Linked DNA regions of Homo sapiens. The protein of the gene in region 3 purifies or fractionates together with the protein of the main gene of each other region. This does not show direct contact. Each region holds a gene or a part of one and is shown on either strand. Other genes may lie near its edges.

Evidence for each region.
Region 1: the proteins of DOK4 (region 3) and AHCYL1 purify together in Homo sapiens (affinity purification with mass spectrometry; 3 studies listed by BioGRID and IntAct, with this or other methods). This does not show direct contact.
Region 2: the proteins of DOK4 (region 3) and MIER1 purify together in Homo sapiens (affinity purification with mass spectrometry; 2 studies listed by BioGRID and IntAct, with this or other methods). This does not show direct contact.

Annotation. Positions count from the first base shown.
Region 1 is NC_000001.11:110,008,765-110,012,416, reverse strand, and holds part of AHCYL1 (S-adenosylhomocysteine hydrolase-like protein 1), read right to left. Parts: intron 3,384-3,652; coding exon 3,272-3,383; intron 1,204-3,271; coding exon 1,060-1,203; intron 56-1,059; coding exon 1-55. UniProt on the Homo sapiens protein: Multifaceted cellular regulator which coordinates several essential cellular functions including regulation of epithelial HCO3(-) and fluid secretion, mRNA processing and DNA replication.
Region 2 is NC_000001.11:66,959,384-66,963,035, reverse strand, and holds part of MIER1 (mesoderm induction early response protein 1), read right to left. Parts: intron 3,358-3,652; coding exon 3,293-3,357; intron 1-3,292. UniProt on the Homo sapiens protein: Transcriptional repressor regulating the expression of a number of genes including SP1 target genes. Probably functions through recruitment of HDAC1 a histone deacetylase involved in chromatin silencing.
Region 3 is NC_000016.10:57,479,994-57,483,645, forward strand, and holds part of DOK4 (docking protein 4), read right to left. Parts: intron 397-3,652; exon of another isoform or gene 302-396; intron 1-301. UniProt on the Homo sapiens protein: DOK proteins are enzymatically inert adaptor or scaffolding proteins. They provide a docking platform for the assembly of multimolecular signaling complexes.

The DNA.
Region 1 (3,652 bases), on a different chromosome or scaffold from region 3:
GCCAAGGGCTTCTCCCCCTGAGCACGTTTCCTGAGTGAAATCAGAGCAGACATGTCTGTGAAAGAACAGAGGATTTGAGCTAGGTCTGCACTAGCAGTATCATCAGTTCCTGCCCCAGGGCTGGTCTGGATCTGTTGAGATATGGTGAGATGAGGCAGAAAAACTTTAAGCCTATTTCCATGACGACTGGCAGCTTCAACGGCACAGTAATAGTGGAGAGCAGTCATGCAACCACTTGGAGTTTCTCTCTTCCTCTACTGCTTCAGCTTTATACACAGAGGACTGAACAGAGAATGAAGTAAATCCTTAAAACTGATCAAAATGAAGGGTGAGTCTCATCATTCATTTGGGAAGAGAGGAAAATAGTTAAGGCATTGGCTAATAGATTCCTATATATAATCATCAGACCAGAAAGACTGTACCCTCAGCCGAAACCACTAACTTCTGTTTTTCTATGCTGTCTTACCATGTCCTGTCAGTCTGTTTGGTTTCTCTATTCTCTCTCAGTATAGAACATGCCTTCAATGTGTAAACAACACAAGAGTAAAGAGGACCTTACTGGGAGTGGCTGGGGTAGAGAAACCAAGATTTAACTGTCAGTCACTTTTACTCTGCTCCAGCAGAGGGTGCTCAGGACCAAACAAGACTCTAGGTCACCACATCCTTACCTTAAAACCCTTCCTCATCAGCTGCTTCTGGGCAATCTGGGTCTCTGCCATTGGCAGCTATAGTAAGATCCCATATAACCAACTACCACGTAGTGATCTAGGACTTGTCAATTCTGCCATGTAGATCTTTGAATACAGTGGTGGGGTGGGGCAAGGAGGAAAACAGAAACTACTCTGTGTGTAATCACCACATGCTGAGAACAGAAGGAAGAGAGAACAAAATCCCAAGACTTAAGTTCCATAGAGAGAGAAGTGTTTATCCGAAAGTCCATAATACTGTCTTTCTTCCCAGTACACTTTCAAGTCAGCTTTCAAGTCTTAAGTTGTTTGTGGATTCTGATGGCCAACAAGAGGGTTGTTTCTGGTCCCCTAACCCACTCCCTTTCTTTACCTTGCTCTGCAATCTCAATCTCCCGGCGTCCAAATTCTGCCTGCTTGATGTTCTTCACACAGAAATTGCTGCTGCCCTTGGAGTTGGTTTGCTGCTTCTCTCGGGGAGAAACCTCATCATCAGAGCTATCTGTGTAGGATGCAGCTAGAGCCAGGAAAGAAAAAAACAAGGATAGAAAAACCTCAGTGGTCCCCAACTCTACAGAGTGCAGTCCCCAAGGGACTTTCATTTAAGTTAAGGGAACACCCTTAATTGGAGCTACCTTTTACAACGCTCTCAGTTCTGCTCCTCTAGGTTCTAATAGGTGGTATGAATGAAACTGTTGTGGGTACTTCCATGTTGCAGCTCTTTCACCCACCCTAACAATACTGTGCTATTAGTGCCTATGACAAGGGACCACTGATTATAAACCTGCAGCTATAGTAATCCCAGATAATAGAGGTACTTGGTCCCATCTGGATTGGAACCAGACCTGGCAAAAACAGAAGAATAATTTAGGGCAGATAAGGAATGCTATTTCTATAGATCACTGGTTCTCAAATTCAAGCATCTATCAGGATCACATGGAAGGTTTGTTAAAACATATATTGCTAGACCCTGTGGCCAGTTTCCCATCTGGCAGGTATGGAGTGGCACCTAAGCATTAGTAGTTCCAACAAGTTACCAGGTGTTGCTGATGCTGCTAGTCAGAGGATCACACTTTGAGAACCATGGATATAGACAAAAGTGATAAGATAGTCTTACAAGGGATTTTACACTAAGTTGTGCTCAAGGAATAGAGAAAGAAAGAAATGGCACAAAAGGCAAACAGCTCTGGTTCTACTGATAGCCCTGGGAAAGTCTGTCAAAATGATCAACTTTAAAAAGTGGTTTCACATAAAAGCTAAAAATACCACTTATCTGACAGATATGCAAGAGGATATACAACAATCATTCCTTACCTCTCAAATCACTTCTTTCCTCTCTGAATTGAGTACTTTCCTCATCACGGTTTCTGCTAGTATACCTGGACTCTCTCACTGACTGACTTCTATGTACAGGTCCTCCTCCTGTCCAGCTAACACAAATACTACTAAAGATTATCTTCCCCACTATGACATTTTAACCATATCACTAAGCTTTTTAAAAGGCTCTAATACATTTCTGTAACATGGCCGTCAAGATCTTTGAAGACTTTTTAAAAGCCTTCTTCAGTCGTTTTATCGTTCTTCCTCTCATAACTCAATTTTTCACAATTAATTTTTCTTCTTTCTTGGCTACAGTTAGCCTGCTTGTCACACACCACTTTTTATCTGTCACTCCAGGATCATATATAACAGCTTTTCATTTATGTTAATCCTTAATGTTGATAATACAATGCAAAAGGTATTCTGGCAAAGGACAATGAATGGCTTTTGGTACAAATATCTCTGCTGACATTAATAGCAATCTGTAACCTCTTAATCTTTTAACAATGAGTCTTCAGTTAAACAATGACAAGGTTGTATTGGATGCCCCATTAGATGTCCCTAATGTTTTCTCCTGTATTCATCTGCCAAGATTCTATATTCTTTTCCATGCTAATTTTCTAATACATGCTCTATAGTTGGGAAAGACACAATACAAAACAGAAAAAGACTTTATTTACAGAGAGTTAAGACAGGAGGAGAGAACTAAAAAGAAACAGAGCTGGAGTTACATTACAGTAGTCTGAATCTTTCCTGCTCCAGAGTCTAACAGGGGAGGATATTCCAACAGAAAGAATAACCTAATAAATAAGAGAAGCCAAAATACTAATTTTATTGTTACAATCTAAGCAGTCTTGGAGACAAGAAAGAAAGAGATAGGTGACAGGGTATATTTTACACAAAGAAATCGTGCTTCAAAATGCACTTCTTTTTTAAGTCCAATTCTGTCAGCCAAAATAGCATTGATTTCTTCCTTTTGAAATGGGCGGATCAATGTGGGAATGGGAACTAGCCCAGTCCTACCAACTGGGCACTGGCCACAGACCACACACACAGACAGCCAGGGGGAAGAAAGTCTCGAGTCGACAAAAGCTTCCCCAGCTACTAGCTTGGCTGCAGAACATTCCCACTGCCCAGCCACTAACAGTTTTCAGCACAAAGGTGGGCAGTCATAACATGAGGTATTTTCAGATTGCTAAGTGAAGAGCACTGGTAGCAAACAGGGAAGAGAGATTAGAGAGGACATGGAGTTCATTCACACCTACCTGAACTGTAGCTGTCAGTGGAGGACTGTGAGATCGAGCGAGACAAAGATCTTCGGCCAGTTTTGGTGGGGAATTTGGTGAACTCCTGCATGTCATCAGCAAACTGGATTTGCTATACAAAAGGAAGACAAAAAGTTGAAAACTTATAAGGAAAATCCATGAAATGTTTTTTTTTTTAAGGATACATTGTCTTTCCCTAAAAGCCATGTAATCACATGGTTCCTACTAAGCCAGCAACTTTCCCACCAGAAATGGGGGAAGGCCGAGGCTACTCTCTGACTTCTCCCAACACGTCAATCACTGTCTCTTCCCAATTGTTTCTGCAGGATTTGGGAGGAGGGGCTAAGGTTAAGAACCAATTTCGTTTAGTATATGTTCAAT
Region 2 (3,652 bases), on a different chromosome or scaffold from region 3:
TCCATTTTCTAGCCTTACCATCTTAGTAAACTGTTCCTGGTTTCTCTGTCATAAAATACAAAAACAACCAATTAACTACCTCAGAGGTACCTTTGTGAAGATGAATGACAAATAATGACTGGATGAAAATATTAGTAATAATACTGAGGTGAAATGCAACGTAAACAATAAATACAAACTTTATTTCAAAATATAGAGACAAAGAAGTGAATTCTGATAATTCCATTAGTAAGACAACTGCAAAACATGTAAAACACAAAGTCAAATTCAGATATTTTCAGAGTATCTACACTTAAGACAGTGGTCTTAAATATGATCCCTATATGAGCAGCATCAGTGTCATCTATGAAATTTTTGTTTTTTTGAGACAGGGTCTTGCTCTGTCACCTAGGCTGGAGTGATCATGGCTCACTGCAGCCTCGACCTCCCAGGCTCAAGCAATTCTCTCACCTCAGTCTCTGAGTAGCTGGGACTACAGGCACATGCCACCACACACAGCTAATGGGAAACTGTTAGAAATGCAAATGCTCAGGTCCCACCCCAAACCTACTGAAACTCTGGGGACAGGACTCAGTCATTGGTATTTTAACAAGCTCTCTAGGTGATTCTGACATAGACTGAAGTCTGAAAAACAGAGCTTCAAAGTAGGAAAAATAACAAAAAGGGTTTGTATAAAGCTCAGTAGGGGCCAAATGAAAGAAACTCTAAATGAAATAGATAAGCAGGTTATGGCTTGACTTTCATTAAAACAATACAAAATGAAAAAGTAACCTCCTCCCACAAATATAATTAAATAGGAAATCCAGTAATCATATCTATACAGTCAAATCACAGATTAGGTGAAACTGGATGTTCTCAAAAGCAACTGCAAACTACCACTGGTGAAATTTCACAATGCAAGGAGACCAAGATTACATGAACCCTCTTTTGTGTGATGGCTAAATGTTAAGAACACATTTACTGACATTTTCAAAATTGGGCATGAAAGGTACAAAATCATGGTCTAGAAGTTTTGGTAACTCTTAGGATTTGGAAAGTCTCTCTCCTGCTATTGTTACCTCACTGATGTGAGGAGCTCATTTTATCCAGTACAACTTCAAAGACGTGCTTTATGTAATAAAGTTATTTCTATACCCATAAGAAAAACCAATCTTTCTCATGATCAGTTTTCTAAAAAGAATCAAACTTACAACAAATTTTCTCTACCCTTACAATGGAATTCTCTTTATGTCTTCTACTATAAAAAGAGTCCTTTATTGTCACATCTTGTGCCTCTTTTAACTTAACTCACCTAGGCCTACCAAAGAACATTGTCAAGTTACTAACCCTGGCTGGGGTGCTTCTAAACCATCAATGCCTGGATCCACTGCAGGACAATTAAATTAGAATCTATGAATGAAGGCCCTGGTAGTCAGTACATCTAAGTTATCCAAATGATTCTAACATAAAAACAGGGTTGAGAACATCTGGATTAGTTTAAAGATAGGTACTTCCTTTTTCCTGTTCAGTTCTGAACATTTCTTTTCATCTGTTAATTTGTTCGGTAGTACAGGGAAGGGAAGGGAAATAGCTTTGAAGATCATTATGTGTTAACATATCATATATGCAATTTTCCTTTAATCTTTCAGCAAGCCCCATAAGGCTGACATTGTTATTCCCATACTATATGTAAGAAGATGAAGCTCAAAAATTTGATTTTCTCAGGAGCACACAATTACTAAGTTCTAGAGCTACAACTAAAATTCAGGTTTGACTTCAAAACTGTTTCCCCTACCTTAAGTTTCTATAAAAACTCAATTTCATCTTATAAGTCTTAAAAAAAAATGAATCTCTGAACCTTGACAATTATTTAAAACAACAAAATCATACTGAAAGAAAACAATCTGCATTTACTCTGGCCTGCTTTATTACATAATTTTTTTCTGAGAAAGGTGTGGTTAATTAATACCCTTTCTGAGTAAGGTGTGGGTAATTAATACCCTCCAGCAATGAGAGGTGTTCTACCTCTGAGCTTTTGTTCTTTCATTTAAAAAAAAAACACTGAATGCTTAATCAAATACTCTACTGAACACTCCAGATTAAAAAACAACACATGTTGAAGATACATAAACTTGAATATGAAGTGGGACAGCAATTTATAAGGACTCCCAAGGTTTCTAGCTTTTTTCATCTTAATTTCTGCACACTGTAGGAATCAGATTAAAAACAGGATGAAAGAACCCTTGCCCAAATAGGCCACACAAATTAACTTTTGTGATTCTTGTTTTCTGTCGAGTCCCATCATTTGCTCAAATTAACACATACCGTAAACTGGGCTAACCTTGTCTCTCAACAAAAATAACATTATTTCTTTGTTTTAACCAGTTCTACATAAAAAATTTTTTTGAAGACATGGGGTCTCACTATGTTGCCCAGCCTGGTCTCAAACTCCTGGGCTGAAGTGATTCTCCCTACCTCAGCCTCCCAAGTAGCTGGGACAACAGGGGAAACATCACTGCAACCAGCTAATTCTACATAATGTTTAGATAGATTTTTCCTAAGAGCTCAGTTCTTTTACAATAACTTACAATTCTTTAACTTAACTGTATGATTAATTATATGCTATATAATTTTATAATTAAAAACTAATCTCAATATATTATCTTTAGATTCATTTCAGAAATTAATTGTATATAGTTACGAAGAAGCCAAATCTGTTTCTTCATATAATAAGCTTATCAGTTGTAAATGTCAACATTAAATTCAATCATTTGGAGAGTTTTTCTTTTATAAAGTAATACAGAATGAAAAACTTGCAATATGAACTACTAAACAAAATTTACTTAACAAATATCAAAGCCTCCACAAATGCTTTCCATAATATTGAAAAACATATACGTGATACTTTTTACAGGGCAACAAATGCCTAATTTGGCACTAGTTCAGGACTAAATCAGAAATGTGGATTTCTGTTTTATTTATTTTTTGTTTTGTTTTATAAAATGAGACAGGGTCCCGCAACGCTGCCCAGGCTGGTCTCGAACTCCTGGGCTCAAGCGATCCGCCTGCCTCAGCCTCCCAAGTGCTGGGATAACAGGCGTGAGCCACCACACCCCGCCAGAAATGTAGATTTCTAATCTAACCTAGATGTGTTAAGAAGGAATCTGAACATTTACCAAACATTTAAATGTCATAAAAGGGCTTACATCGATTTTATCAATATACATAGTTAGTAAAAAAAAAAATAATTACACGAGGCTTTTTAAAAAAATATTAATTTATCTAAATTTTGGGAAAATATTGTTCTAACTACCTTTTTCCAGTCTTCTGATGGAATATAATCTTCATCTTCTTCAGATTCTTCTTCTACTTCACTATCTAGAATAAATAAGACACCAATACTATAAAATGACTGCTTATCCTGTCTAAATCTACATATTATTTTTACATCTACCATCAAATATTTGGATATGCTCAAAGATATCTAATGAATTAAGCCAAGATATTTCTAACCAAATAATTAACACCCTATCACTTAAAAAAACAAAACCAAAAAAACCATAAACTTTCTACATAATTGTATTCTCATGAAATGATTTCCTATAAAAACTTAGGGGAAAAAACTGATTTAGAATAAAGATAATATTATCTTACTACATATTTCATGACAGTT
Region 3 (3,652 bases):
CAGGAAGGGAAGTGGCAGGGAGCTGCTGTCCCTCAGCACTTTGGGATCGTGGCCCCATCAACTGTGATAACTCTGGTGCAAATTTAGGTCAACTTGCCAAGAGCAAAAGCCCCTTCCTGGGTACAAGAGCTCCCAGGGGTAGCAGGGAAGCGCTTCCCAGAGATGGAGGAGGAGGGTCGCAGGAGATGACCCCTGCGTGTCTGAGTGAACCCCATGCTCTGCAATGTTAAAGACAATTTGCCTGGTCAGCTCAGCAGCCCCCACAAACCCCTCTACCCTCCTGCCCCACCCGGTCCTCTACCTGTTTCTCTCCAGCCCCAGGCTAAGAATCACTACCTCGAGCTCACGCAGGGCCTGTTCCCAGGCCCTGCAACTCTTCCGCACGCAGCTCTGGGTGCTGCTTCCTGGGTGGGAGGGCAGAGTCCAGTGGGGCGGGCCTCCAGATAAGCCTGAGGAATGTGCTGGGCCGGCTGGAGGTAGCCACTGTGGGAGCAGACGCCTTGCCCTGGCCCTGGGGTTGGGAACGCTGGCCAGTCCGTGAGGGTGGGGCCCGGGCCCCAACAGGCCACTGGGTCTGGCCAAGCCAAGCAGGCCCTCCATGTCCTGAGCATGGGCAGGAGTTAATTATAGGAGTACCAGTCAGGGCCCTGGGGCAACAAGACATGCAGGAGACAATGTGGGATACCAAGGGGAGGTAGATATGGAGCAGGAAGTGGGAGTACCAGCAGAGCCACCCCAAATCAGGCAGATCTACAGACAACAAAGACTCAGACTCAGGGGGAGGCTCAGTGTTGACCCAGTCTAACCCCTTCATTTTATAGATGGAGAAAGAAAAGTTGCCCAGAGAGGGTAAGCTACATGACTAAGGTCACACAGCAGGCCTGGGGCAGAGCCAGGGATGAAGGAGAAGGTCCAGGGTGGTGATGGAGACCAGTCTGTGGGGGGAACATCCTGCTGCCGTCTCTGGCTGCCTGCCACCACCTAAGCCTTCCCTGCCATCCATCCTCGGGGGCAGGGTTATGCCAGCAATGTGGCCCCTGTGTCTTCAGGATCAGCGGGTGGGAACGGAGCAGCATTTCTGGGGTCAGCTGGGTATCTGTGCTGCCAGAACGGGGCCCTGGGACAGGCATGCTGCTGGTTGTGCCAGCAGCTTGGCATTAATTAATGTCCTGGAGGCCTGTCTGTTGAGTGCCTAACAAGGAACAGATGGGACTACCCCAGTGGGCACACGCACAGATGGGACTACCCCAGTGGGCACACGCAAACAAGGGAGGGGCAGAGACGGTAATGCGCCCCTATCCCACTTGCACCCTGATAGCCCCTCAATTCCACTCCTGCCCATTCACTGCCTCTATCCCAGCTCCCTGGGGTCCAAGAACCTCCCACAGTTAGGCAGTCTACATTCCTCCTATAAGGTCTGGTCTGGGGTCCCCTCACTGGCAACTGATCCCCAACAGCTCTGCTACACCTGGGCTCTGGCAGCCAGAGATGGGTCAATTTTCTCAGCTCTGTCTTCACCGCCTGCCTCTGGGGCTGCCTTCTCCTCAGAGCAAGGACCAGCTCAGGAGTTCCTCTCCAAGATGATTAGCAGGCTGACCACTGGCTGTGGGTCTACAGTGTGGAAGCCCCCAGTCAGAACACGCCTACAGGAAGCCACTGGACCCCCAGGTTCATCCAACATAGCTCAGACATAGCACAGCCCGGAGTGTGAATCCAGCTGGCTGTGTGGTCCTGGGCAAGCCGCTTAAGACCCTGTGCCTTAATTTCCCCATTGGAAAAAAATGAGAATAAATCTACCTACTTTAAATGAGGAAATGAATTCATGAGGCACCTGCTTGCCCACTTGGGACACAGAGCTTCTACCCTTTTTCTTTTTCTTTTTCTTTTTTGAGACGGAGTCTCCCTCTGTCGCCCAGGCTGGAGTGCAGCGGCGCGATCTCGGCTCACTGCAACCTCTGCCTCCTGGGTTCACGCCATTCTCCTGCCTCGGCTTCCCGAGTAGCTGGAACTACAGGCTCCCACCACCATGCTCGGCTAATTTTCGGTATTTTTAGTAGAGACGGGGTTTCACCGTGTTAGCCAGGATGGTCTCGATCTCCTGACCTCATGATCCGCCCGCCTCGGCCTCCCAAAGTGCTGGGATTACAGGCGTGAGCCACTGCGCCCGGCCTTCTTTTTCTTCTTTTGAGACAGTGTCCTGCTCTGTCACCCAGGCTGGAGTGCAGGGGTGCCATCACGGCTTACGGCAGCCTCAACCACCCAGGCTCAAGTGATCCACCCACCTCAGCCTCCTGAATAGCTGGGACCGCAGGTACATACCACCATGCCCAGCTAATTTTTAAAAACTTGTTTGTAGAGATGGGGCTTTTGTTTTTTTTTTTTTTTTTTTTTGAGACGGAGTCTCACTCTATTGCCCAGGCTGGAGTGCAGTGGCCCAATCTCGGCTCATTGCAAGCTCCGCCTCCCGGGTTCACGCCATTCTCCTTCCTCAGCCTCCCGAGTAGCTGGGACTACAGGAGCCCACCACCATACCCGGCTAATTGTTTCATATTTTTAGTAAAGACGGGGTTTCACCGTGTTAGCCAGGATGGTCTCGATCTCCTGACCTTGTGATCCACCCGCCTCGGCCTTCCAACGTTCTGGGATTACAGGCGTGAGCCACTGCGCCCGGCCCCTAGAGATGGGTTTTCACCATGTTGCCCAGGCTGGTCTTGAACTCCTGGGGTCAAGTGATCCACAAGGCTCGGCCTCCCTGAGTGCTGAGATTACAGGTGTGAGCAACTGCGCCTGGCCAGAGCTTCTGCCTTGAAAACTCCAAGGGCTGTGTGTATGTATATATATATAGTTTTCTTCAAGAGTTGCTGCCCAGACAGGGCGGTGAAACCACCAGAAGCCAGCCTGCTCCTTCCCAGTGTTGCCCCACCAGGGACTGTGGCCCCAAGCTCGCAGGAGTGCTCCTGCTGCGTCTGTCCATAGGCCCCACCCCGTCCCATACCCCAGGTCCCCAGCGGGAAGAGTGACCTTCACGGGGAAGGCTGGGTGCCAAAGTCCTGCCAGCTCACTCCGGCCCTGAGTCACAGGGACCCCTGGCCACACTTAGTCCCTAATGATGTTTGCAAGAGCAAGACCTAACCTAGGACCCAAAATGGTGGGCAAAGAGGGGTTCGGAAGGGGAGGGAAAGGTCAGGGCCAATAGGTGGACCCACAAATTTGACAGGCAGTGGGGTCAAGTGGTGAGGGGGGGGCCCAGAACCAACCCACCATCCTCCAGAAGGAATGCACTGTGTTAAGCAAGCGAGGCGGCCCCCAAGCTGAGCCTGTGAAGGCCCAATAGGACAGCAAGAAGTGGAGAGCAGACCAGGCACAGTGGCTCACACCTGTAATCCCAACACTTTGGGAGGCCAAAGTGGGAGGATCACTTGGGGCCAGGAGTTCAAGACCAGATCCGGCAACATAGAGAGACCCCGTCTCTACAAAAAATGAAAAAATAAGCTGGGCATGTGGCACGTGCCTGTAGTCACAGCTACTGGGGAGGCCGAGGTGGGAGGATCACTTGAGCTCAGGAATTCCAGGTAGCAGTGAGCTATGATCAAGCCACTGCACTCCAGCCTGGGTGATAGAGTGAGACTGTTTCTAAAAAATTTCAAAAAAA